Linked DNA regions of Homo sapiens. The protein of the gene in region 2 purifies or fractionates together with the protein of the main gene of each other region. This does not show direct contact. Each region holds a gene or a part of one and is shown on either strand. Other genes may lie near its edges. The genes, in order: DNAJB4, KCNE3, SLC20A1 and RIOK3.

Evidence for each region.
Region 1: the proteins of KCNE3 (region 2) and DNAJB4 purify together in Homo sapiens (co-immunoprecipitation; 2 studies listed by BioGRID and IntAct, with this or other methods). This does not show direct contact.
Region 3: the proteins of KCNE3 (region 2) and SLC20A1 purify together in Homo sapiens (co-immunoprecipitation; 2 studies listed by BioGRID and IntAct, with this or other methods). This does not show direct contact.
Region 4: the proteins of KCNE3 (region 2) and RIOK3 purify together in Homo sapiens (co-immunoprecipitation; 2 studies listed by BioGRID and IntAct, with this or other methods). This does not show direct contact.

What each region holds. Positions count from the first base shown.
Region 1 is NC_000001.11:78,007,939-78,014,938, reverse strand, and holds part of DNAJB4 (dnaJ homolog subfamily B member 4), read right to left. Parts: intron 1,889-7,000; coding exon 1,320-1,888; intron 1-1,319. UniProt on the Homo sapiens protein: Probable chaperone. Stimulates ATP hydrolysis and the folding of unfolded proteins mediated by HSPA1A/B (in vitro).
Region 2 is NC_000011.10:74,457,546-74,464,581, forward strand, and holds part of KCNE3 (potassium voltage-gated channel subfamily E member 3), read right to left. Parts: exon of another isoform or gene 6,717-7,036; intron 5,311-6,716; exon of another isoform or gene 5,137-5,310; intron 4,588-5,136; exon of another isoform or gene 4,559-4,587; 5' UTR 4,410-4,558; intron 59-4,409; coding exon of another isoform or gene 19-58; coding exon 1-18. UniProt on the Homo sapiens protein: Ancillary protein that functions as a regulatory subunit of the voltage-gated potassium (Kv) channel complex composed of pore-forming and potassium-conducting alpha subunits and of regulatory beta subunits.
Region 3 is NC_000002.12:112,655,913-112,662,948, forward strand, and holds part of SLC20A1 (sodium-dependent phosphate transporter 1), read left to right. Parts: intron 1-1,209; coding exon 1,210-1,329; intron 1,330-2,912; coding exon 2,913-3,182; intron 3,183-3,291; coding exon 3,292-3,850; intron 3,851-4,474; coding exon 4,475-4,660; intron 4,661-5,229; coding exon 5,230-5,314; intron 5,315-6,951; coding exon 6,952-7,036. UniProt on the Homo sapiens protein: Sodium-phosphate symporter which preferentially transports the monovalent form of phosphate with a stoichiometry of two sodium ions per phosphate ion. May play a role in extracellular matrix and cartilage calcification as well as in vascular calcification.
Region 4 is NC_000018.10:23,463,274-23,470,309, forward strand, and holds part of RIOK3 (serine/threonine-protein kinase RIO3), read left to right. Parts: intron 1-693; coding exon 694-839; intron 840-932; coding exon 933-1,040; intron 1,041-1,245; coding exon 1,246-1,355; intron 1,356-2,859; coding exon 2,860-3,003; intron 3,004-4,125; coding exon 4,126-4,253; intron 4,254-7,036.

The DNA.
Region 1 (7,000 bases), on a different chromosome or scaffold from region 2:
TACAGCTCAAGTATACAAGATAATAATAGAGCAAACTGGGCCAGGTGCGGTGGCTCATGCCTATAGTCCCAGCACTTTGGGAGGCCGAGGTGGGCGGATTACTTGAGGTCAAGAGTTCAAGACGAGCCTGGCCAACATGGTGAAAACCTATCGCTACTAAAAATATGAAAATCAGCTGGGCATGGTGGCGGGCACCTGTAATCCCAGCTACTCAGGAACCTGAGGCAGGAGAATTACTTGAACCTGGGAGGTGGAGGCTGCAGTACTAGCTGAGATTGTGCCACTGCACTCCAGCATGGGTGACAGAGCGAGACTCCATCTCAAAAAAATAATAATAATAATAATAGAGCAAACTTGGGGAAGTGCATATACATTTTATGGGTAGACATCAGATTTAAAATGACTTATTTTAAGCTAAAGAGTTTGGACTTTATGGTAGAGGTTATATAGAGCAATTTAAGAATTTGAAGCAGGGAACTGCTATGACCATATTTGCAAAGTTACAATCCAATTTGAGAAATAGTACAAATAGGCCAGGCGTGGTGGCTCATGCCTGTAATCCTAGCACTTTGGGAGGCCAAGGCAAGTGGATCACCTGAGGTCAGGAATTCAAGACCAGCCTGGCCAACATGGTAAAACCCTGTGTCTACTAAAAATACAAAAATTAGCCAGGTGTGGTGGGGGGCGCCTGTAATCCCAGCTACTTAGGAGGCCGAGGCAAGAGAATCACTTGAACCCGGAGGCAGAGGTTGCAGTGAGCCGAGATTGCGCTGTGGGTGACAGAGCAAGACTCTGTCTCAAAAAAAAAAAAGAAATAGTGCAAATAAGAACTCAAATAATAATTGTATTAACATAGTAGCATTATAATTTATAAATGTATATATTTATATGCACTTATAAATGTATTTTTTATTAATATAAATGTATACAAATTTGTAGTGAATTATAAATTATTTTCTTCTAATCTTTTTTGGTATGCAATTATTACTCCATATTAACAAATTTAGAACAAACCCTATATACAAAGACTAATGTGTTGAGATTACCAATGCAGATCTCATAAACCACATTTGTAAAAGCAGCCTCATAGTACATAATCCAGTTAACACTTGACACTTTAATTATAAGTAACTAAAGTTAGAAAATATAATCACATCCATAAAAGAGGTATAATACTAGTACTATCTTAGAGGATTTTTATAGTAATTATTTTTAACGTATAATAGGCATTAAATAAATGTTAGCTATTATCTAGATACACTCCCTATGATCAACTACATAATTATTTGGTCTTAGGATTTTAGGTCCTACCAACTTACCTCTCGTAAACTAATTTTAGCAGTATAAATTATATTTGATCCATCCCTTTTAAATTTTGGATGATCTTTGTCTTTAATGATAAAAACAATGTCTGCTGGAATACTATTTGGTGTTTCATCTCCTTCTCTTGGAAAAGTAATTTTGGTGCCTTCTTTCCACCCTTTTTTAATCTCAATGGTAAGAATTTTGTCCTCAGATCTGTAACTCCTTCCATCAGCGTTTAGCCTTTTTCGAGAAATCTTCATCCGTTTGGTACAACCACTATATATCTCTTCAAGTGATACTCTAAGTTCATGAATAACTGGAGGATCTTGTTTGAGGCGGGATGGCCCCACAGAATTCCTGTCTCTTGGATATCCATTCATGCTGAAACCAAAGGCACTAAAAGGATCACCATCTATTTCCATTTCTTCAGAATCTCTACCACCACCCATTCGTCTTCCAAAGAAAATTTCAAAGGGGTTGGACCCTCCGAAAAATGCAGCAAATGTAGCATGAGGATCGCCATGAAAGGTGTACCGGAAGGTACCTCCTTGTCCATCAGTACCTCCTGCTCCTCCTTTCAACCCTAATTGAAGAGATAAGCATGATTAGAAAAAAGCTTGCAACTCTTAAAAGTTAAACTTTCAAAAACTGTATTGCTAATAAATTTTGGCTAACTTACATTAAAATGTATTAATATTGGCCAGAAATGCCACTTTACTAAATACAGAACAGCTATAAAACTCTTGATGATTACATCCTAAGTTAAATTGTTAAGTTTTCAAATTCTTCCTCCAAATCAGCATTTTTGTTTGTTTGTGTTTTTGAGACAGAGTTTCGCTCTTGTTTGCCCAGGCTGGAGTGCAATGGCGCAATCTTGGCTCACCGCAACCTCCGCCTCCCAGGTTCAAACAATTCTCCTGCCTCAGCCTCCCGAGTAGCTGGGATTACAGGCATGTGCCACCACGCCCGGCTAATTTTGTATTTTTAGTAGAGACGAGGTTTCTTCATGTTGGTCAGGCTGGTCTCGAACTCCCAACCTCAGGTGATCTGCCTGCCTTGGCCTCCCAAAGTGCTGAAATTACAAGTGTGAGCCACTGCTTCCGGCCAAATCAGCATCTCTAATATTTATTCCTGATTCTTTGTTCCACGGGTAAGTAAGAAAAATAAAATAAGGCCGGGCGCAGAGGCTCATGCCTGTAATCCCAACACTTTGGGAGGCCGAGGCAAGCAGATCATGAGGTCAGGAGTTTGAGACCAGCCTGGCCAACACAGTGAAACCCCGCCTCCACTAAAAATACAAAAAATTAGCCAGGTGTGGTGGCAGGTGCCTGTAATACTAGCTACTCAGGAGGCTGAGGCAGGAGAATCACTTGAACCTGGGAGGCAGAAGTTGCAGCGAGCTGAGATCGCACCACTGCACACCAGCCCGGGCAACAGTGTGAGACTCTGTCTCAAAAAAAAAAAAAAAAAAAAAGAAAAGAAAAGAAAAAGAAAATAAAACTGGGAACTCCTTATAAACTACTGATCTGGCATGCTGAAGTATATAAATTATATAAGTATCTACTTATAAATATATAAGTTTTTAAAAGATGTCAGTTGGAAGGTCTTCAGCAATCAACACAAAGTGCAGAACTTAAATCTTTAATTTTTATTACAATCAAACAATATATATAACATTTAAAAATATAAATATATTAATAAAATATATAGCAAAATATAAAATACCATATTCATACTGTTTATATATAAATAAAATAGAAATATGTAAAAATATAATGTAATAAAAATACCATATTCATTCTAACTAGTTTTATTTCAGATCATCTTTTACTGTTTAGGAATTAAAATAGGGCCAGGTGCAGTGGCTCACACCTGTAATCCCAGCACTTTGGGAGGCCGAGTCGGGTGGATCACTTGAGATCAGGAGTTCGAGACCAGCCTGGTCTACATGGTGAAACCCCGTCTCTACTATAAATACAAAATTAGCTGGGCATGGTGGCACATGCCTATAATCCCAGCTACTTGGGAGGCTGAGGCAGGAGAATCGCTTGAACCTGGGAGGCAGAGGTTACAGTGAGCCAAGACTGCACCATTGCACTCCGGCCTGGGCAACAGGAGCAAAACTCCATCTCAAAAAAAAAAAAAAAAGAATTAAAATAGAACTCTGTGTCAGAGAGTGAAAAAAATTCTAATAATGAGGACATTCTATGAAAAATGGTTTTTTAGACACTACGATTGTCATTCCTACTCTAGATACCAAATTTTTTAGGCATATCACATCTTAGCATTAATTTCAATGCTTGTAAGAAGACTGAAATCAAGAGCTGTAAACTTTGACACGTAAGGCCTCTATATGGGTTATTTCTGTCTCTTGTGAACAGTCCACCTCAGGCAACAATATAGTGACTTTTTGACCCTTTGCTTAAGGGTTCCACTAAGTAATATTTAACCCACAAAAGATTATATTTGAAACAACATTTTCCACTATGAAAGAAATGTTCTACTAAAACTCAAAAAACAACAGTATGGTGATCTTTTAAGGGGTCAATACAGATCAAGAAACAAGCAGGAAAAGAATCTAAAAATCATAAAACTATGAAAAATCCAACAGATTAAGCTAGGAGATTCTAATATCTCCAAACAGTGAGTGATTTGAAGGCAGGAAATATATTTATTTTGCACTGCTCATGCATACAGGGCTGAAAATGGTAGGTATTCATGCTTAGTGAATGAAGGGAATGAACTAATTCCTAAAGTCCTTCTAAATCAAAACTAAAAAAGGTGTCTTGAGTATCGGTACAGAGAAAAAGGCAGAAGCAAAAACAATGTAAAATATAATCACACATATACATATATGAGAGATTTAACAATTTAAAATGCCACTAACACACAGCATACTTTAAAGAAACTTAGTTTTGCTTACGTCTTATTCTGCATTTGGCTTCTTCCATTAAAAGGTATATATCTACTCTATTTCATCTAACAGGGTCTCAAGTGATATCTAAAATTTTTACCTTCATCCATGAATAGAAATCTGGAGAGATCAAGAGAGACCTAATAATCTGAAAATTGCCAAAATATGTATTGAACAATATATCCAAATAGCAGTTAGGGAAATTCCTTGTAGAATGACAAGTATAAGCAGGACAAGATCTTTTCATAAGCAGCTCATCCAAATTTCCCTTTTATAAATTTTAGTAGTATAATTATAACTCCAAATGTTAAAAAGGTAATGGCAGATTTTTTTTTTAATGATAGAATAATATGTAGCTCAAGGTCATGACCAAAGTGACTCAACCAATGCTTAAATTATTTAAATAATTTTATCCTTCATCCCATAGACTTAAGGGAGTATAATTATTTAACTGAGTTAAGTAAACTGGGTAAATCAGCCTGCCCAATCTAGCCTCTTATAAGACAAAATTTAAATACTTGCACCCATAATGAATTCATGAAAAGAAAGAATAATGTTTTAATTTATTACATCATGGGTTTGGCTTTCTGGAAAACCTCTTCCTCCTCTGCCAAAAAGGGCAATTCGGTCATAATTACAAAGTCTCTGAGAAGATTCATACAAAGTCTGAAGTAACTTACCAAAGCTGATAAAAAGACTCCAATGCAGCTTTGAGGTTTTCCTAGACACTATTAAACAGTCAACTATGCAGCTCAGACAAAGAACGAAGCTACTCTAATGAATGAAAAAAATCCTAGGCTGGGCACAGTGGCTCACACCTATAATCCCAGAACTTTGGGAGGCCAAGGTGGGTGGAGCATGAGGTCTGGAGTTCGAGATCAGCCTGACCAACATGGTGAAACCTCGTCTCTACTAAAAATACAAAAATTAGCCAGGCGTGGTGGCGCACGCCTGTAATCCCAGCTACTCAGGAGACTGATTCTGTCTCAAAAACAACAAAAAAAAGAAAAAAATCCTACCAAAATTCATGCCACTTTAATATACATTATTATGCAAGTATCACTTGCATTGTCTAGCACATAAAATTATAAGTAATGTCACATTAACTATATGGTCAGTTCTTAATCATGTACATTTTGAACGCTAATGGAAATGTTTAATATCCAATTGGATTCCCTCTGCTATTCAAAATGTTTTCTAGACATCGTCATCACTTTGTGTGATCAAAAAACGCACCAGAGAAGCAACATTTGCCTATGATTTAGCAAGACTGCTATTATTTTACAACTAACCAGTCAACCAGTTTGCAGTCCCAAACCAAATATGTGTTTGGAATACTATCTATAACAATGATTCCCACTAATTAGTTAAGGTTGACTAAAAGTTTCCAAAAGAAGAAACACTGGAGAAAAATTCAGATTGCAAAGAAAAAAACATGATAATACTTTAATAACTCTTACTCCATCCAAGGAGATCTAATATGTAAAAATCCAGATTTACAGCAAGACTTCAGTTATCAAATAATGAGATTCTGAGATTTTTTAAACAGTTTTAATTCACAAAAATCAAATTTACTTACATGTTTTTAGAACACACAGTGAATTAAAAAAAATCCAGCTAGCTAAATATATAAGTTAAAGAACAGAAGAGAACTAGTATAAAGATTAATAAATACAAGTTTTATCATTTAAACACTACCTTTTAATATTTGAAGTTACTGAATAAATCATATGCAATAACAAAATAAGGAAAGCATAAAAAAAGAAAAATTAGAAAACTAGAATAAATGAGGATGTGTTATTGAAAATCTTTTCTTTTAAATCTCTTAACACAAATTTTTGTTGACATCCACTAAACTATTCAAGACTAAACCTAAAACTTTAGAGAGTGGTTCAGAATCCAATTTTAAATTTCTGTAGTTCTGTGGTTTTTGTTTTCAAATGATTCAACTATAGAGAAATTTTATTTTTAAAAAGATTTATTACATATATAAAATTAACCTATTGTACAAATACAATTCAATTGATTATAGTAAATTGATAGAGCTGTATAACCATCATCACAATCCAGTTATAGAACATTTCCATCATTCCAAAGAATTCTCTAGTTCTTATTTGTAGCTAATCCCCGCTCCCACCTCAAGTCCTAGGCAAGAAAGATCTGCTTTCTTTTTCTATATACTGGCCTTTTCCAGACATTTCACATAAATAAAATCATACAATATATAGTCTTTTACATCTGGCTTCTTTAATTTAGCATAGTTTCTGAGGTTCATCAATGGTGTAGCATGTTTCACAAATTGGTCCTTTTATTGCTAAATAGTTCCTCATTGAATGTATATAGCACATTTTGTTTAATTCACCAATTTATGGTGCTTTCAGATTGTTTCCAGTTTGGGGCTATTATAAATAATGCTGCTATAAGCATTCAGGTACATGTCTTTGTGTGGACATGTTTTTGTTTCCCTTTTATAGATTCCTAAAAGTAAATTTGAGTTATCCGTATTTTTTTTCTTTCCTTTGCTTTTTCTAGAGGTAGGGTCTTGCTATGTTGCAAAGGCTGGACTCAAACTCTTGGGCTCAAGCAATCCTTCAGCCTCAGCCTCCCTATTAGCTGAGACTACAGGCATATGCCACCTCACCCAGCTAGCCAACTGTTTTTAAAACAAAGCATTTTAAATTGTGAATATTCAGAACACAAATATACTGTGTTCTGGATTACTGGTTCTTTCACTCCTAAATACATAAATTTAGCATATGCAACTTACATACTTTTCAGTTT
Region 2 (7,036 bases):
TCCATTGGTAGTCTCCATAGCAACAGGGATTGAGGTGGGGGAAGACTCGGTAGAAGCTCTGGTGGCAAAAGAAAAGAGAGAGGGGATGGCTCTGTCACCTGCAGCTCAAATGACCTCCTCCCTTCAGATCCCAGGTAAAATCTTAGCATCATGGCTGATATGGTTTGGCTGTGTCCCCACCCAAATCTCATCTGGAATCATAGCTCCCATAATCCCCATGTGTCATGGGAGGGACCCAGTAGGAGGTAACTGAATCATGGGGGTGGGTTTTTCCCATGCTGTTCTCATGATAGTGAATAAGTCTCACGAGATCTGATGGTTTAGAAAGGGCAGTTCCCCTGCACCTGCTCTCTTGCCTGCCACTGTTTAAGATGTGCCTTTGCTCCTCCTTTGCCTTCTGCCGTGATTGTGAGGCCTACCCAGCCGTGTGGAACTGTGAGTCCATTAAACTTCTTTTTCTTTATAAACTACCCAGGCTCAGGTATTTCTTCATGGCAGTATGAAAATGGACTAATACAATAGCTTATTCTAGCTGCTTGATTACATGTTTGTCTTCTCCATTAGACCATACACTAAACAATAAGGGCAGGGCCTATATTTGTTTTACTCACTGCTATATGCAATCACTTATGACAGCATTCAATAAGTAAGTACTCAATAAATAATTGTACAACAAAGCCTTCCCTGACCATCAGAACCCATATTAATCTCTCCTTTCTTTGGTTTCTATAAATCACTGAACTTTAGATTAGAAGGAACTTAAGGATTATTTAATATAACTCTTGCCATTTTATACACAGGGAAACTGAGGCCTTGAGAGAATAAGTGGCTTGTCCATGATCACAGAATATTGGAAGTAGAGCCAAGACAGAAAGCCCTGCTCTTTGTGGCTAGCTTAGAGCTGCTTCCACTTCCATGCTAGCTCTCAGCAGGACTGTGCAGCACCATTAGAAGACATTCATCACAACTCTCCTTGAGCACAGTTCTCTTTAGACTGCACAGACAGGTTGGGCACAGTGGCTCACGCCTGTAATCCCAGCACTTTGGGAGGCTGAGGCGGGTGGGATCACTTGAGATCAGGAGTTGGAGACCAGCCTGGCAAATGTGGTGAAACCCGTCTCTACTAAAAATACAAAAATTAGCTGGGCGTGGTGGTGAGCGCTTGGTAATCCCAGCTACTTGGGAGGCTGAGGCAGGAGAATCACTTGGACTCAGAAGGTGGAGGTTGCAGTGAGCCAAGATAGAGCCACTGCACTCCAGCCTGGGCCACAGAGCGTGACTTTGTCTCAAAAGAAAAAAAAAAAAAGACTCCACGGACACCTTTTGGAAGACACCTGGGGATGGTTTAAATTTCATCCTGCCTGGAGGCCAGAAGCTGGATCATTTGCCCTCTCAAGCATCCTGTGTCCCAAAGACTAGATATTCCTAGCTATTTGTAGAAATTCTGTTGGAAAGAGGTGGTCAGGGAAACGGGAACAGGTTGGTAACCACTGCAGGCACTGGAGAAGAGAACAGCAGCTTGGGCCTGAGGGCGGGAGAGTGAAAGGAGTTCTCAGTCTGGCTTGGGGTTTACCTGCCCACAAAAAGAAGACACAAGCACGCCAACTATCTTGTCTCCTGAAATAAAGTCATTATGTACCTGGCATATAGTAAGTGATTATAAATGTTCCTTTCCCTTCTTCTCAGAGATCCTTAGTCTATAATATAGAAAACATTTTTTTTTTTTTTTTTTTTGAGACGGAGTCTCACTCTGTCGCCCAGGCTGCAGTGCAGTGGCGCAATCTCGGCTCACTGCAAGTTCCGCCTCCTGGGTTCACGCCATTCTCCTGCCTCAGCCTCCCCAGTAGCTGGGACTACAGGCGCCCGCCATCACGCCAGGCTAATTTTTTTGTATTTTTAGTAGAGACAGGGTTTCACCATGTTAGCCAGGATGGTCTCGATCTCCTGACTTTGTGATTCGCCCACCTCGGCCTCCCAAAGTGCTGGGATTACAGGCGCCCAGCCAGAAAGAACATCTTAAAACAGACTTGCATCCTTGTCTCTGAAAAACCATATGTAATTCCCTATAAACAAGGCCCCACACTCACTTCCTTTAGGAAGCCTCCATTCAGTGCTCCCCACCTCTCAGCCACACTACACTGCCTTTATCATCACAGCCTTCCCTTCCCCCCAGCACTTACATATAAGGCAATATGTGGCTGTCCTCTTGTTTTTGATAAGGATATCATCAGACCACATGCGTCTGGTCAGCAGGGCTATGTCTCTTACCCCAGTCTGGAGGACTACCCTGAGACTGGGTGTTCTCCTTTCCCAGGGCACTACCTTGAGACTGGCTGGGTATTCCCTTTTTCTAGATTGGCTGGGTGCTCTCCTTCTCTCAATAGTTTCTAGTAGAGATGTTCACTTTAAGGAATTCTCTATGGGCCAAGCATTCAGTCCTCCATCATATGGGTAGAACTGTTAACAAACTAATATGTGACTATTAACCATAAGATCTCTTCCCTGGAAAAGATGATCATTCTGACTATGAAAAATATTCATCAATGGCTCTATGAACACAATCAGCCAGGACTGGGCAGCATTTCATGCAAGGCCTTTGGGGCCTTCTGACATCTAGTACTTGTGCTGCCTTGTCTGGATGGAGGAGGGGAAAAGAACAAGAGCTCACTGAGTTAAGATCCAGGAGATACACGTTCTCATCTACTACCCCATGTGTCAGGCAAGAACTCTGTGGCTGCTGCTTCCCTCGTGTGGGCCAATAGCAAGTAGGAGCAGCATGATGAAATAAATAACTCAAAAAATAATCTAGATAGTTATCACCAATATGGGCCACACCCTGTGATGGGAGTTCGGGGTGGCTCAGATCCAGTGCCTTCGCCCAGGGGCTCTGATACAATGCAGGGGACAAGCAAAGAGCTACTAAGGCTGAAAGGAATAAGTGATGGATACTGATCAGGGCTCAGAGAGTGTCCACAGTGATGGAGGCATTTGAGTTGGACCTTGAAGGGTTTTTAAGAGGCAGAAAAGATGAAGGAAACATGAGCAAAGGCAGAACAAGAAAGTGTGTAAATGTTTAGAAGAATGGAAAGTAGCATAAAGAGGTTGGAGTGTAAGATGTGTGGAAGAATAGTGTAGGATGTGGGGCAGGAGAGAGAGGATCCAGATCATGGGGGGCCTTGAGTGCCACGCTGTAGAGTTGGAACTTTATTCTGTAGCTAGGGAAAAGCCATGGAATGGTATCTTAAAAGAAGATAAAATGGTCAGATCTGTGCCTGGAAAGGATACTCTGGCTGTCATGTGGACTGGAGGGAGCTGGAATTGAGGCAGTGAGCCCAGCTACCAGAGTCTTGAAATAGTTTAGTGTAAGATGCTGAGTCATGAATTGGGGCAGAGAGGATAACAAAGTAGGGAAGTGGGGGTAGAGACAGTCGTAAGACCTGAGGAGGAAATGGCTAAGTGAGGGTTGAAGGAGGAAGGGGCCTCAGGCAATTTCATAGGTAGACAACAAACAAACAGTGTAAGTGTCTTGATGAGCCTACTCTGAAGGAAATAAGTTCCTTTCCCTGGGTGGGCTTTGGTTTCCTCATCTACCAAAAGACATTATCATGGAGTTGTTGTATGGTAGGTATAGAGTTTCAATTTTACAAGATGAGGAGATTCTGGGGATCTGCTGCACAACAAGGTGAATCTAGTTAACACTACTGAGTGTACACTCAAGAATGACTAAGATGGTATATTTTTATGTTTTGTGTGTGTGTGTGTGTGTGTGTGTGTGTGTGTTTTAAGCACAATTTTAAAAAATAGGCCAGCTGTGGTGCCTCACTCCTTTAATCCCGGTACTTTGGGAGGCTGAGGCCAGTGGGTCACCTGAGGTCAGGAGTTCGAGACCAGCCTGGCCAACGTGGAGAAACCCCGTCTCTACTAAAAATACAAAAATTAGCCGGGTACACGCCTGTATTCCCAGCTGCTCAGGAGGCTGAGGCAGGAGAACCGCTTGAACTCAGGAGGTGGAAGTTGCAGTGAGCCGAGATCACACCACTGCACTCCAGCCTGGGCAGGAAAGCAAGACCTCTGTCTCAAAAAACAAACAAACAAACAAACAAAAAACCCCACAAAGAAAGATGATCATCCTTTCCCTCCTCCTTCAAGGCTTGCTATGAGCATATACTTGTATTATGTAGAAGAGGATTAAAAACTTTTTTTTTATTTTCAAGAAGCAAATATGTACACATAGGTTTAAAAAAAAAAAAAAAGAATGGACGCAGCACATACAGTGAAGGTGAAAGCTCCTAGTCGTCCCAAGCTCCATCCCAGGGCAGGGCAGTTACCATTCAGTTTTCTTAGGTATCATTGGAAAGGGGTTTTAACTGACAGGGAGAGGGAGGGAAATCTCAATCTGGAAGACTCACCAGACTGCTGGCAAATCCACTGGCTCTCAGTCAGTTTCAGGAGTCCCTTTGTGGACACACTAAGGCTCCTCCACCCCCGAGCCTCTTCAGGATGTCTCTGGACACATCTGGGATCTCAGTATTGACTTCGGAGCTGGGAAAGCCCAGAGCTAGAAAGCAGGAGAGAAGGCAGAAAAGGAAGGAACCAGACACAAAGCACAAACTTCAGAACCAGGGTGGATTGCCCAAGGCCAGGCCCCAAGGATTATGCAACAGTCCTGCTGTGGGCTCTGACCCCCTCCCATGGCCCCTCCCCTTCCTGCAGCAGCTGGGTCAGGCCAGCCTAGGGTTGCAGTTAAAGGAACTGTGCAGTGACCAAAGGGCCTCTGATTGCTGTCCCCTACCTCCAGACTTACAGTGTCTTCACTGGGTGACTTCATGAGAAACCTGTTTAAAATGTGGACTCCCACTCAGGGACCAGCTGATGGTGCAGCCTAAAACATTCCCTTTCCTAAGGGTTACCTTAGCAAGGTCCTTTTCGAATCCCAAGGGAATTGACATGAGTGGGAGAATGCCAACTGGCAGCTGGGTTGATATTTTACATAGGAACAAATGATGTGTTACCACCCAATCTATTCAGATAGACAGGATATGAACACGGTCACAGAATGAACACTATCTGTAGCATAGCTTTGTTGTGAAAATTAAAGAACATCATGTAGTGCTTGGCACTAGACACTGCACATACGGTGGTTGTTTTTGTAGAGCAAGGCTGGAAGGGCCTTCAGAGCCCATCTAGGCTATATGCCCTCACTTTACGGTGAAGGAAATGGAAACCAGGGGAGTTGTCCCAGCTCAGCTGCTCCTTGTGTGACTTTGGACATAAGACTTCCCTTTTCTGGGCCTCAGCTTCTGTCCGCATCTGTAAAATGAAGGGGTCTCAGTTGGTTCTAACGTCCTGTGATGATACGAATCATGAAACCATGCTGTGAGACCATGGGAAGTTGGAGAGGCTGATGGGAGAGGCATTTTGGGGGCTTTCTAGAGCTTCTCAAATCCCAAGATAGAGAAGGCTGTGGACCTCTTCCTCACAGGTTAAGATGCTTCTGAGCCCTGGGACTGACTGACATCTAATATCCCAGTCGAGCCAAACTGAGAGATTTACTCATTTTTCCTCTTCACAGCTCACCTGCCAGGATGATCTAGCCTGAGGAGGGGATAGACTCTGCAGAAGGTGGGGGAAGGGGACAGTGTGGAGGGTAGGGTGGGCTTTGAGGCAGGGTTCCATGAGGGGAATAAAGATTCATGAGACCTTTCATGCCTCAGGGTCTCTCTGAATAGACTAGGATGTTTGTGCTTCTGACAGGAGGAGGAAAGGGGCCATAGTTCCACATCTCTAGGTGCTGGGTTTGTATGGGAGGGAAGGCTGGGGTGCCAGGGCCTCCTGTCTGCGTTAGGAGAGGCAGAAAGCTGATGAAGGCACAAGTTGGTTCTCTATGGGGCTCTGGGGCTGCCTCTGGGGCTCAAGCTGGGGACTGGCAGTCAGCAACAGGGGAGTTTTGCCACTGTTTCTGAGCTCCTTGGCTTCCCTGTCCAGGAGAGTCCCTGATTACTGAGATCCTTGGATGGGGGAGATGGAGCTCCTGCCCTGGAGAGGTCTTGCCTTGAAATAGAAGATAGGCCAGTGAGGAAGGAAGGTGAGCAGATGGCCAAGCTGAGAGGGACTTTAAGGATCATCTAGAATCTAGATTCCAGGCCAACCCCTCCATTTCGTAGATGAGGAAACTGAGGCTCAGAAGGGAGAAGTGACTAGTCCAAAATGACATGGCCCATAAATGGCAGCACTCAGACAAGAACCCAGGTGTTTGGGCTACTGTTCAGGTGCTCTTTCCACTACAAATGGCAGTGTTTCCTCACACCTAAGCTTCACATCACACCAGACACAGCCTGTTAGTGTCATGGGGCATCATCTCCTCTAACTTCGTCACTATGGCCTTTTCATGCACCACAGATTCTCGCCAATCTTAGTCAATGATCCAGTGAGATGGAGGTTGGTAAGCTTGGGAGGAGGAGTTAGACTTCGTTTATGCTCTCATCTTCCATGCACCCCACTGCTCCAGACCTACTCCTGATTCCCCAGATGAGCCAGGTTCACTCTCTGTTCCTGCTATTTCCCATACATTCACAGGTTCTCACAAACTGCACTTGCCTTACACTTGTCCAACCCCTAACTTGGAAGTTGGGGAATAAAGCTGTGATCTGAGGGATGAACTGGGGATCTTAGTGGGGTTTTCATTCAGGTTGCTCTGGGGAAAAGTGAAACTCTACCCTTGGGTCTTTCTTTCCCGTCACTCCGTTTCAGCTACTCTTTCAGAATGAGCGTCTTCAGTGTCTGGAAATGAAGTACAGAGAGGTAGGTAGAAAAAGTCACATAAAGCAGGTAGGTGATCCAAAGACAGTTCCTGGGGTGCACAGTTTTACCACTGTCCCCTTGGTGGTCTTACCACTCCTGTGGATTGGAGAGCTGGTGGAGTGGGAGAGGAGTTGAAGGAGTAGCCCTTAGCATCCAGTTGGAAGGACAAAGGAATAGAATCTGAGCTGGAAGAGATCTTCATGATCATGTTGTTGGTGCAACCCCCTCATTCAAC
Region 3 (7,036 bases), on a different chromosome or scaffold from region 2:
CTGGTCTTGAACTCGTGACCTCAGGTGCTCCACCTGTCTCAGCCTCCCAAAGTGCTGGGATTACAGGTGTGAGCCACTGTGCCTGGCCAGTGCTTTACTTCTGTCTTTAGTACAGGCTAATGGTTTGGAGCCTACTGGCGTGCATATGACAGTCAGATAATGACTAATATTACTCATTCTTAAACCATGTGAACAGTGTTGCTAGGCAAGTCTTTTTTTAAGGTAAGACTTGTAAGTGAAATTACCACTAAACTTTGTGTGTGAGAAAGACAAAACTTTTTTTTTTTTTTTTTTTTTTTTTGAGACAAAGTCTGACTTTGTCACCCAGGCTGGAGTGCAGTGGCGCAATCTCAGCTCACTGCAACCTCCGCCCTGCCAGGTTCAAGTGATTCTCCCACCTCAGCCTCCCGAGTAGCTGGGACTACAGGCGCCCACCACCATGCCCGGCTAATTTTTTTTTGTATTTTTAGTAGAGATGGGGTTTTGCCATGTTGGGCAGGCTGGTCTCGAACTCCTGACCTCAAGTGATCTGCCTGCCACGGCCTCCCAAAGTGCTGGGATTACAGGCATGAGCCACCGTGCCTGGCTGAAAGACAAAGCTTTTACAACTATTCTTAAATTATCAACTTTTGATAGATAATATCCTTGTTTTCTGTATCTTGCTTTGATACTGCTTTCAAGGAGATAATCTCATTAAAGCATTTTACTAAAGGCCAGTATAGTGAATGTAATCACTTTTACACAGAATTGTGTCAGCATGACAAATGTGACTACTGAGACATCATTCTGTTAACATTAAAATAAGTTTGTAGGTGGTAATGGAATATGTGGCAGTTACGATCATGAGCTAGGAGAGTGGAACACTTGCTGTCTTTTTCATAGCTAGTCATAGGTCCTTAGCGTGTAGTGATCTTTATTATCTTCCAAGGTGAAGAAAGGAAAAGGCTCGTATGTTGAGAAGCATAGGAACTTGAGTCCCGCAGGTGTTCAAGTGGGCTAGGCTGGTGTGGGTTTTCAGATGATCATTGAGTTTTTCTCCCAAATTTGTATAGGCACTAGCACAGTAATCCTGTGCACTTAAATCTGGCAGCAGCTGTCAGGGGTGATGGGCTGGTATGGGGAACCCCTCAGTCCCCAGAGGAGGGTTTACACAATATTGCAGGGGGCTGTTGCCCTGGGGTTTTCAAGATGCACCATTTTATCTCCTAGTGCTGGGCTTTGACAAACTTCCTCTGTGGGGTACCATCCTCATCTCGGTGGGATGTGCAGTTTTCTGTGCCCTTATCGTCTGGTTCTTTGTATGTCCCAGGATGAAGAGAAAAATTGAACGTAAGTAATAACTAAACAGCAGAAAAGTTTAACTACTAATGTTGTGTTTATTTTTTATTTGGCCACCTGTAAAAATCTATTAGAAGAGATTGGCAAAATAAGAGATTTTAAAGGGAAATTTGAGGATATGGGTTTGTTGTCCAAACTGTTTTTAGAAATGGACTTACATGACCTAAGACCTGTTCTTAAAAATGGACTTACATGACCTAAGACCTAGTGATAAAGAGTATTCAACCTATGCTGTAGAGACAATCTGGGGCATTGAATTTTTTTATGTTCCTTGATCAGTTGCCAGTGACATGATAGATAAATAGAGAAATCATAGCCTACATTTACTGAGAAGTAGAAGGATACCTTAATGAAAAATAAGGGGTAGATACAAGATATTTTCGTAGAGGAAATATTTACCCCAACTGCTTCTGTGTATAACTTCAGATTCAGACAAGCAAAGCTAAGTCTAATGTGTACATGTTGTATATAGGCTAGAATACATGTAGACATTGTATTGCAGTATACAATGCAAATACATATACAAACACACATTGTGTGTCTGCTAGAATTGTAGCACAGATTCTAGAAGTAAACATTTTCAAGTGTCAAGGAATCATTTAGGCCATTACCACACACTCATGTAATTAAATACTGAGTAAATTTTGGTTAGTATCGGACTTTTTTTTCCTTAAAATAATCATTTTCTGCCCTTTTCATCGATGTGAAGGCTGGGTTAGCAAGTTGAAGTTTATCGTTTCGAAGCTGAGGGATGCATAGACTGCAGTGGTGTTAGGAAGAACGCTGCGTCACCGCAGCTGAACCGAAGAGCCTCCGAGAGGTTCTGTGCTAGTCTGGCTGTGCCGAGTGCACGGTGGGAACCAGGCTTTCAGGACTCTCTGGCCTCATTTTCCCTCTCTGGGAGGAGTTGAGACAAGTCTTGCTTTATGTTAGTCAGTCTGTAGTTTGACTGAGGTGCCTGGATGGATAGGTCAGCATACTGAGCACTGGCATGAGAGAGGCAGAAGATACTCTGGTCTGCCTGTGGGATTTACAGCCATGATGCACATCTCTTTGTTTTATAGAGGTGGAAATTAAAGTTGTCGTCTTTAGTTCCCTGCATTGAGCTGTGCCACTTTGCTTGAATTGGTGGACTGAAATTTGAGAGAATCCTCTTTTGAAAAGAATAGAATTGGGTACAGTTCAGATTTTTAGTTTCAGCTTATCAGCCCCATGGTTGAGCTACTTTCCCCTACAGAATGAGTCAGCAGGGAGCTAAGAAGGGTTCTTATATCTGTAAAGGGTTGTAAAAATAAAAACAAAACAACAATGTGCTACAGAAGCCCGTAAAACCTAAAATATTTACAGAAAAATTTTGGGACCCCTGACATAGGGTGTTCTGCATTGCTGGTTGTTCCCAAGTGAGAGTTGCTGGCAAATGATAAAGCAGGCAGGAAAAATGTTCCTGAATGTTAATTGAAGTTCACATACATTCTTGTTTTGAGATGAGTTTTTTGGGGGTGGAGGAAAGGAGACGTGGAACAAAGTAGTATGGCCACAACCAAACCAAAAAAGACCCCCCTTTTTTTTCCTAGGAGAAATAAAGTGTAGTCCTTCTGAAAGCCCCTTAATGGAAAAAAAGAATAGCTTGAAAGAAGACCATGAAGAAACAAAGTTGTCTGTTGGTGATATTGAAAACAAGCATCCTGTTTCTGAGGTAGGGCCTGCCACTGTGCCCCTCCAGGCTGTGGTGGAGGAGAGAACAGTCTCATTCAAACTTGGAGATTTGGAGGAAGCTCCAGAGAGAGAGAGGCTTCCCAGCGTGGACTTGAAAGAGGAAACCAGCATAGATAGCACCGTGAATGGTGAGTTGGAATTCCTGGTTTCACTTTTGTTACCTGCAGTGGTGAGGAGGCTTATTGTTTTGGATTTGATGCTTTTTGTATTGAATGTCACCTTGGTGATCTTGACTAGGTGCAGTGCAGTTGCCTAATGGGAACCTTGTCCAGTTCAGTCAAGCCGTCAGCAACCAAATAAACTCCAGTGGCCACTACCAGTATCACACCGTGCATAAGGATTCCGGCCTGTACAAAGAGCTACTCCATAAATTACATCTTGCCAAGGTGGGAGATTGCATGGGAGACTCCGGTGACAAACCCTTAAGGCGCAATAATAGCTATACTTCCTATACCATGGCAATATGTGGCATGCCTCTGGATTCATTCCGTGCCAAAGAAGGTGAACAGAAGGGCGAAGAAATGGAGAAGCTGACATGGCCTAATGCAGACTCCAAGAAGCGAATTCGAATGGACAGTTACACCAGTTACTGCAATGCTGTGTCTGACCTTCACTCAGCATCTGAGATAGACATGAGTGTCAAGGCAGAGATGGGTCTAGGTGACAGAAAAGGAAGTAATGGCTCTCTAGAAGAATGGTATGACCAGGATAAGCCTGAAGTCTCTCTCCTCTTCCAGTTCCTGCAGATCCTTACAGCCTGCTTTGGGTCATTCGCCCATGGTGGCAATGACGTAAGGTCAGTTGACATTGATCTTAGTGTTGCTAACCCTATTTTTAAACCATTTATCCTTGTCACAGGCCTGTGCTTGTGGTAGTGGTACTCCTAGCATTTACAGGACCCCAAATAATACAAATAGGATGAGGTAATAGCAGTTATTGACATAATAAGACAGTACAGTTTTATTCTTCAGAGGAATTACAAAGAATGTTTATTTTTGTAGATGATAAATATAAACAGATACTCTTCACAGAGAAGGCTTTTGTCCATCAAGATGAGATTCAGTTCTTTGGTAGTGAATTGTGGGATGTAAGATGTAAGATGAAAAACTTAAAAGTTTTTCATATAGAATGATTTTGTAGTTTGGTTTGTAAACTGTTTATTGGAACCTGAGAGTTGCTTTAAGCTGCCTATAGGAGGAAAGAGGCCACCATTTGCCTGGCATTCCCTCCATCAGAGCTGTGTTCATTTTTCTGTTGTGTATGTTGGGGTTCCATTTATGTCTTTAGAAAGAAAGGCCCTTTTGCCAGATGAGCTTGAAAGCTGTACTTTAGACAACCTGGTAGATCATTCAGCAGATTGGGTCTTGCCAAGATCTAGTTCTGCCTGAAAAGTCACTTCTGCCCTCTTTGTTTCTTCCAGCAATGCCATTGGGCCTCTGGTTGCTTTATATTTGGTTTATGACACAGGAGATGTTTCTTCAAAAGTGGCAACACCAATATGGCTTCTACTCTATGGTGGTGTTGGTATCTGTGTTGGTCTGTGGGTTTGGGGAAGAAGAGTTATCCAGACCATGGGGAAGGATCTGACACCGATCACACCCTCTAGGTAAGTAGGTGGAGCAGGTTCTACAAATGTCAGTACTCATTTTTTTCAGAGATATAACACTGTCGAGTGCTAACACAAATCTCTAAAGTAACCAAGTTTGTATAAGTTCATGATGTTCTTATTGTCATTGTTCTTTTTAGATTTTACTTGTCTGGCCCTTAAACATTTTGGTCAGACATTTTACCCATTTAGCTCTGGTGGTCTCTGAAGAAAATGACTTTTCTGAGAAAGCTGTGTATGCTAAGAGCGGATAGTTATGTATACTTGCCTTTTATTTGTCTTGGGAGCTAAGACTCAATGTTTACCAAACTCTTCAAAATAAAAGTGCAAATTTTATTTAATAGTGGGATTCCAGAAAAACGTAAAACTGGAAGCCTTTGAATAAGGAAACTGGGCATCTGTGGCCTGATTTAAATAAAGTAGATCTTAGGGGTTATAGCAAATAAAGATGTCAGTGGAGGTTTTGTGACTGAGTAGAACAAAGCAGGACTGTGTTAACTTGAGGTGTAGTGTTAGCTTCTCAAAAAAGTCAAACTCACTTCCTGACAAGAATCCTTTTGTGTCTGTAGTGGCTTCAGTATTGAACTGGCATCTGCCCTCACTGTGGTGATTGCATCAAATATTGGCCTTCCCATCAGTACAACACATTGTAAAGTAAGTGTAATGCCAATGTGTGTCTTTCAAATGGTTCTTCTAATATGTAGGGTTTTTAGTTTTACTTCTCTGATACTTTGATTTAGAAAGTTTTGTGCAGTTGGAGTCTTGAAGAGTTCATAAGTTATTTCTTGTGTTTATTCTTATTTAAGCAATTAAATAGATATTCTCCCCAAATAATAGAAACATTGTTTTATATACAGCTTACTGTAGTTTCTGGCTACTAACCTCTTCCTTTGTTACTTTATCCTCCCTCATTGTAGTCTCTTTATAATAATTTTTTTTTTAATCTCAAGAGTCATTTCTACTTGGCACCATTATGTTTTATTTATTTATGTATGAGTTGGAGTCTTGCTGTGTCACCTGGGCTGGAGTTCAGTGGCACAATCTCGGCTCATTGCAACCTCCGCCTCCTGGGCTCAAGTGATTCTTGTGCTTCAGCCTCTCAAGTAGCTGGGATTATAGGCACCCGCCACCATGCCTGGCTAATTTTTGTATTTTTAGTAGACACAGGATTTCACCATGTTGGCCAAGCTGGTCATGAACTCCTAACCTCAGGTGATCCACCTGGCTCGGCCTCCCAAAGTGCTAGGATTACATGCGTGAGCCACCGCGCCCGGCCGACAGCATTATGTTCTTTGCCTTTGGGGAAGCCATTCAGAGCAGGGTAGGTGTATGCTTAGAAACTGGCAGGTGCTTTAATTCTGGCCAGGTGGGTTTCTGCTGCCATTTGTGGTGGCTGAAGGCCTGGTTCTAACAAGTCTGTGAGGCTTGCCAAAATGTTGGCAAAGCAGTTTATTTACAGAAGGCATATTTCAGGGCCTCTCAGGATTGAAATACTGAGAAACAAAACAAATCTTAAGGTTGTTTGATGACAATCTAATAATTATAGGAGAAGGAAGAAACTGGTTTCCTTAAGAGCATTTAAGCTGGTCCATCATGGATCCTGCTGAGTCATCTGTTTGCTACCCGGATGTGTCTCCAGACAATTGTTTATTAGGTTTAATATCAGCCACTCTGTAAATAATCTTAGGAAGACTTACAATGCAATTTGTTATTAAAAGCAGTGTATAGGCCAGGTGCAGTGGCTCATGCCTGTAATCCCAGCACTTTGGGAGGCCAAGGCAGGTGGATCACAAGGTCAGGAGTTTGAGACCAGCCTGGCCAACATAGTGAAACCCCATCTCTACTAAAAATACAAAAAATTAGCTAGGCGTGGTGGTGGGTGCCTGTAATCCCAGCACTTGGGAGGCTGAGGCAGGAGAATCACATGAAACCAGGAGGTGGAGGTTGCAGTGAGCCAAGATTGCGCCACTGTACTCCAGCCTGGGCGACAGTGCGAGACTCCGTCTCAAAAAATAAATAAATAAAAGCAGTATATATTCATTAAATTTTAGCAGTAGCTGAGAAGGGGAAAAGAAATAGTTCTTGTGTCCTTTTACTACCGTTAGTATAGATTATGATTGGATTTTCAAATTGCCTTCATTTTCCCAGCTTAACCTGTTGTAAACCAGCTTTCTTGGACTTTGTCTTGTCCAGGGGTCTGGGGCTCCTTGTCCAAACAGTCTCAGGTGTCTGTTTGCCAGAATACCACTGGCACTTCAATAACCTGTTTCCTTGGTCTGCTTCTCTTCTAGGTGGGCTCTGTTGTGTCTGTTGGCTGGCTCCGGTCCAAGAAGGCTGTTGACTGGCGTCTCTTTCGTAACATTTTTATGGCCTGGT
Region 4 (7,036 bases), on a different chromosome or scaffold from region 2:
GTGGGTTTTAGTTATATCGCGTTAATGCTGCAGTTGAACTAGATGAGGTACAGTTTTGATCAAGTGTTTGTAGTTTATCTTTTCATGAATATGTATCTATTCTTTCATTATGGATGAATGAAACATCCAGACTTTCTTTTTTTTTTTTTTTTGGAGATGGAATTTCGCTCTTGTTTCCCAGGCTAGAGTGCAATGGCACAATCTCGGCTCGGCACAACCTCCGTCTCCCGGGTTCAAGTGATTCTCCTGCCTCAGCCTCTCGAGTAGCTGGGATTACAGGCATGTGCTGCCACGTCCGGCTAATTTTGTATTTTTAGTAGAGATGGGGTTTCTCCATGTTGGTCAGGTTGGTCTCGAACTCCTGACCTCAGATGATCCGCCAGCCTCAGCCTCCCAAAGTGCTGGGATTACAGGCATGAGCCACTGCACCTGGCCTCATACTTTCATTCAGAACAAATGAATTCTAGGCCTCAGTTTAGCTTTCTCTCCCAGTTCTCTTAATCCTAGTTGGTACTCCCACAGGTGCATGCCATTGGTCTTAAGGCTAGCTGTGCAGGAGAAGGTAAATGGTTTGATAGAGTTCTTTCCCATTGTTCAATTTTAACATGGAAAAGGCACCTCCTACTCTCATAATTGGCAACCTCTGTTTACTTAAGCACATTACATTAGTTTATATTGCCTTATTTTGAATAGTGTTGCTGAAGGACCATTTATTACTGGAGAAAACATTGATACTTCCAGTGACCTTATGCTGGCTCAGATGCTACAGATGGAATATGACAGAGAATATGATGCACAGCTTAGGCGTGAAGAAAAAAAATTCAATGGAGATAGCAAAGGTATTATAACCTTATTGTGACAACTTCATTGAGTGGTAGAAAACACTCATAATGTGCTCCTAAGTAAATCTTCAACTATTTTTGCTTCTTAAGTTTCCATTTCCTTTGAAAATTATCGAAAAGTGCATCCTTATGAAGACAGCGATAGCTCTGAAGATGAGGTTGACTGGCAGGATACTCGTGATGATCCCTACAGACCAGGTACCAAAGTTTTTACTTTCTGGGGGCAGCAGAATAGAGGTATAGGAAGACTAATCTTTTCAATGAACTCTTTTAGTTTTATATTTTTCTTTGAATCTCATTTGGTAATTTACTCTTAGATTCAAATGTCTTTTCAGACAACGTTGAATGCAGCAATGTAGTCTTTGCTATTTTTATATACCTGGCTTATTTCAATTGCCTTTAGCAAAACCGGTTCCCACTCCTAAAAAGGGCTTTATTGGAAAAGGAAAAGATATCACCACCAAACATGATGAAGTAGTATGTGGGAGAAAGAACACAGCAAGAATGGAAAATGTAAGTTACAGAAAGTATCTATCTCTGAATTTAGAGTTTTGTTTGAATACCTTTCAAAAACAGGATTCTAAATATAATACCTTAGATTTCTAAAAATGTCTTTCTTTCTAAAGATGTTTTTAGATAACAATATGGCAATATCATGGAAACTGAGACATTAATGAAAATATAAAGTACCTCAGAATAAAATTCCATAACAGTGTTGAAAAACTATTTTGACTCACATTGATTCTAAAATTAATAAATAGTTATTATGAAATTAACATTTATTCTTCATCATATCTCTATAAAATAGCATCCCTACCCAAAAAACAGATAACGGTGGCGATTGGGGAATACAAATGGGAGGGAGAAATACTTTTCACCATATACTCTTTTGTGCATTTTGAATTTATTATCTTGTGCCTGAACTACCTGTGTAAAATCAGAAGTAAAGTGTAACTTTAAAAAATAGCATTCTAGGCCGGGCATGGAGGCTCATGCCTGTAATCCCAGTATTTTGGGATGCCGAGGTGGGCAGATCACCTGAGGTCAGGAGTTCAAGACCAGCCTGACCAACATGGAAAAACCCCATCTCTACTAAAAATACAAAATTAGCCAGGCATGGTGGCGCATGCCTGTAATCCCAGTTACTCGGGAGGCTGAGGCAGGAGAATTGCTTGAACCTGGGAGGCAGAGGTTGTAGTGAGCCGAGATCGTGCCACTTCACTCCAGCCTGGGCAACAAGAGTGAAACTCTGCCTCAAAAAAACAAACAAAAAAAAAGCATTCTAAATCCTTCATAAATATTGTGGTTAATATAATATATTAAACATTTAGATTTTAAAGCACAAATGCTTGTTAAGTAAACATATTCAATTATATCATTTCTAGAAATATTCCAGATCTAATTCTAGAAGAGTTCTGTCCAATAGAACTTTCTGTGGTAATGGAAATGTTCTGTATGTGTGCTGTTCAATATGGTAGCCACATTTGCTGTTGAGCACTTGAAATTTGGGTGGTATAATAGAGGAACTGAATTTTTAATTTAATTTTAATTAACTTAAATATCCAAGTGTGGCTAGTGGCTACCTAACTGAATTGCACAGTTCTAGAACATAATTGTCATGGTGTGAACATAGTCTGCTATAACAACCCACTCTCCACAAATAATTACAAAATTGTATTTCTTTGGTAAGATTTGGTGTAGCCTTCACAGTTCAATATTGTGTCCTTTGGCTAAAAGCAAGGTACAATGCACATGCCGAAAGACCTTAGTTTTGGATGTGATGAAATGTTTTCTATGCCTGGAATAAATGCCTTCCTTTGGGTTGTAATTTCTTAAATAGTATTGCTCCTCTTTCTGTGAGTTATTTAATTTTTTTCTCTGTAGTAGCTATGATTTCTGGTTTTCTAGTGTGATCATCTATTGAGTAAGAAAGACTAATCTCATTTGGTTGTTTTTGTTTTTGTTTTTAACTGTCCCTATTTTAAAATATTTAGATGCTAATTCTTCCTTTTGGCAGTTTGCACCTGAGTTTCAGGTAGGAGATGGAATTGGAATGGATTTAAAACTATCAAACCATGTTTTCAATGCTTTAAAACAACATGCCTACTCAGAAGAACGTCGAAGTGCCCGCCTACATGAGAAAAAGGAGCATTCTACAGCAGTAAGGATTTATAGATTTTTTTTTTTCTTTTTTACTAGAAAGATTCATATTAGAAAACTTTGGGTAAAGAAAAAAAAACTTCATGTTTGATATTTTTTCATGAGATTGGCTTTTTAAATCAAAGATGTAAATAAATCCAGCCACTGTGGTGCCCGCCTGTAATCCCACTACTTTGGGATAGCAGATGGAGACAGGAGGATTACTTGAGCCTAGGAGTGCAAGAACAGCCCAGGCAACATAATGATCCCCAGCTCACAAAAAAAATTAGCTGGGCATCATGGCACACACCTGTGGTCCCAGCTACCCGGGGGGCTGAGGTGGGAGGATTGGTTGAGCCCAAGAAGTTGAGGCTGCAGTGAACCATGATTGTGCCACTGTACTGCAGCCTGGGTGACAGATTGAGACCCTGCCTTAAAAAAAAAAAAAAAAAAAAAAATGTAAATAAGCCAGGTGAGGTGGCTCCCAGCACCTTGGGAAGCCAAGGTAGAAGGATCGCTTGAGCCCAGGAGTTCAAGACCAGCCTGGGCAACATAGGGAGACCCTGGGAGACCCTGTCTCAGCAAAAGTTTTAAAAAATTAGCCGGGCATGTTGGTGTGCACCTTTAGTCCCAGCTGCTCAGGAGGCTGAGGTGGGAGGATCACTTGAACCCAGGAATTTGAAGCTGTAGTGAGCCATAATCATGTCACTGCATTCCATCCTGGACAACAGAGTGAGACCCTGTCTCTCTCTCTGTCTCTAAAAAAAAAAAAGATATTAGGCCAGGCGTGGTGGCTCACACCTATAATCCCAGCACTTTGGGAGGCCAAGGCGGGCGGATCATGAGGTCAGGAGTTCGAGACCAGCCTGGCCAACATAGTGAAACCCCATCTCTAGTAAAAATACAAAAATTAGCCAGGTGTGGTGGCGGGCGCCTGTAATCCCAGCTACTCGGGAGGCTGAGGCAGGAGAATCACTTGAACCTGGGAGGTGGAGGTTGCAGTGATCAGAGATGGTGCCATTGTACTCTAGCCTGGGTGACAAGAGCAAGACTCCGTCTCAAAAAAAAAAAGTTATTAGAAGTGGCTCAGAAAATATTTTGTGATTAGCAGTCATTTTCACTTACAGTGCTTTATCTCTTGCAGGAAAAAGCAGTTGATCCTAAGACACGTTTACTTATGTATAAAATGGTCAACTCTGGAATGTTGGAGACAATCACTGGCTGTATTAGTACAGGAAAGGAGTCTGTTGTCTTTCATGCATATGGAGGGAGGTAAATGAGCAAAATATGATACCATGATATGAAAACTTAGTCTCTTCTCCCCAAGATTAATGAATTTACACAGAATCAAAGATAATGCTGCATGGCAAGCAGAGTAATTTTTAAAGTGTTATTGTAGAAAGTCTAGGCAGTATAGGAATGTATAAAAAACACAGTCATCCTAATACCACCACCCAGAGATAATCATTAATAATTTTGGGTAGACTTCTCCAGTTTTTTTCAATGCGTATATTATTATTATTATTATTATTATTTTTTGAGATGGAGTTTCACTCTTGTTCCCCAGGCTGGAGTGCAGTGGCGTGATCTTGGCTCACTGCAATCTCTGCCTCCCGGGTTCAAGCAAGGTCTCCTATCCCAGCCTCCAGAGTAGCTGGGATTACAGGCACATGCCACCACGCCTGGCTAATTTTTGTATTTTTAGTAGAGACAGGGTTTCGCCATGTTGGCTAGGCTGTCCTCAAACTCCTGACCTTAGGTGATCCACTCGCCTTGGCCTCCCAAAGTGCTGGGATTACAGGCGTGAGCCACTGCTTCCGGGCTTCCTCATCTTTATCAGTGTTTAGTATTATCAAATCTAATGCTTTTTGTCAGTGTGAGAGATGAAAAGTAACATCTTGGTATTTTGGTGTGCATTTATTTAATTATGATTAAGTTGTACATTTTTTCCAAGTGCTTTATTGGCCATTTGTATTTCTTTTTCTTGTCTTCTCTCTTGTTTATCCTTTGTCCATTTTCTGTTATACTCAATATACTCCTTTTTTTTTTTTTTTTTTTTTTTTGGGAGATGGAGTTTTGCTCTTGTTGCCCAGGGTGGAGTACAATGGCGCAATCTCAGCTCACTGCAACCTCCATCTCCTGAGTTCAAGCGATTCTCCTGTCTCAGCCTCCCAAGTAGCTGGGATTACAGGCACGCACCACCACGCCTGGCTAATTTGTGTGTTTTTAGTAGAGATGGGCTTTCACCATGTTAGCCAGGCTGGTCTCAAACTCCTGACATCAGGTGATCCACCCATCTTGGCCTCCCAAAGTGCCAAGATTACAGGCGTGAGCCACTGCGCCTGGCCTGGTATACTTAATATACTCTAATATAATAAATGTTCAGTCTTTCTGGTGGAATTGGTATCATAATCTGTACTTTGACATTTCTAAGTTAGCAAAACTAGAGAACATTCAGTTTTCTACAGCTAAAAGTTAATGCTTTTAAAAGTTTGTTAGTTTTCTGTGGTACATAATAAATTGCCACAGACTTAGCAGCCAAAACAGCATCCATTTATTATCTCATAGTTTCTGTTGACAGAATCCAGGCATGGCTTAACTAGGTTCTCTGTTCAGGGTTTCACAAGCCTGCAGTCTAGGTGTTGGCCAGGCTGTGTTCCTTTCTGGAGCTTGGCGTCCTCTTCCCTTGGCCACCTTTCAGTTGCAGCTATACGACTGAGGTCCCACTTTCTTGTTGGCTGTCAGCAGTGGGCTGCTCTCAACTCCTTGAGGCCCCTGCAGTTCCTTGCCATGGGGCCGTCTCACAGGCCTCTTCACACACTAGCTCTCACACTTTCAAAGCCAGCAGGAGAATCTCTCCAGTCTGCTAAGACTGAGACTTAGTGTTATGTTATCATGGGAATGACTAGACCATCACCTTTGCCACATAACCTAACCAGGGAGTGGCTATCCCACACATGCTCAAGGGAAGGAGGTATTATACAGGGGTGTGCACACCAAGGGGGCTGGGAGTTTTGCTTTCCACAAAGCTCTGGTTCCTTTCTTTCTTCCTCTCTCTCTCTCTCTCTCTCTCTCTCTCTCTCCCCCTCTCTCCCCCTCTCTCCCTCCCTCCCTCCCTCCCTCCCCTCCCTCCCCTCTCTCCTCTCTCCCCTCTCTCCTCTCTCTCTCTCTCTCTCCCTCTCCTCTCTCCTCTCTCTCTCTCTCTTTTTCTTTCTTTCTTTCTTTTTCTTTCCTTCTTTCTTTTTTTTTTTGAGATGGAGTCTTGCTCTGTCACCCAGGCTGGAGTGCAATGGCGCAATCTTGGCTCACTGCATCCTCTACCTCCCAAGTTCAAGTGATTCTCCTGCCTCAGCCTCCCCGGTAGCGGGGATTACAGGTACACACTACCATGCCCGGCTAATTTTTGTATTTTTAGTAGAGACGGGGTTTCACCATTTTGGCCAGGCTGGTCTCAAATTCCTGACCTTGTGATCCAACTGCCTCAGCCTCCCAAAGTGCTGGGATTACAGGCGTGGGCCACTGTGCCTGGGTCAAAGCTCTGGTTTCTGTCACTCTCAGGTTGGTCAGGCAATCAACAATTATTCAAACAGTAATTTGTGCTAGATTACTCAGGGAATAAAATATAAGACATATTTTTTACTCTCAAAGAGCTTAAGCTTTAGCTAAAAGGAGAACATTACAGTAAGAACCATTATGGTCAATGAAAGATAATTACATAATAGAGTACCCAGTTATGCAAACGAGACCTTATATGGGATAGGAATAGCGAATAGAACAAGATCATTGCCAGGCACATTCAGGGAAGATATCATAATGAAGTTGGATCTCAATCTGGATTTTAAAAATAGGTTAAAAAAAGAAATCCGTTGGAGGACCGATGGGGGCGGATCACGAGGTCAGGAGATCGAGACGATCCTGGTTAACACGGTGAAACTCCGTCTCTACTAAAAAATACAAAAAAGTTAGCCGGGCATGGTGGCGGGCATCTGTACTCCCAGCTACTTGGGAGGCTGAGGCAGGAGAATGGCGTGAACCTGGGAGCGGAGCTTGCAGTG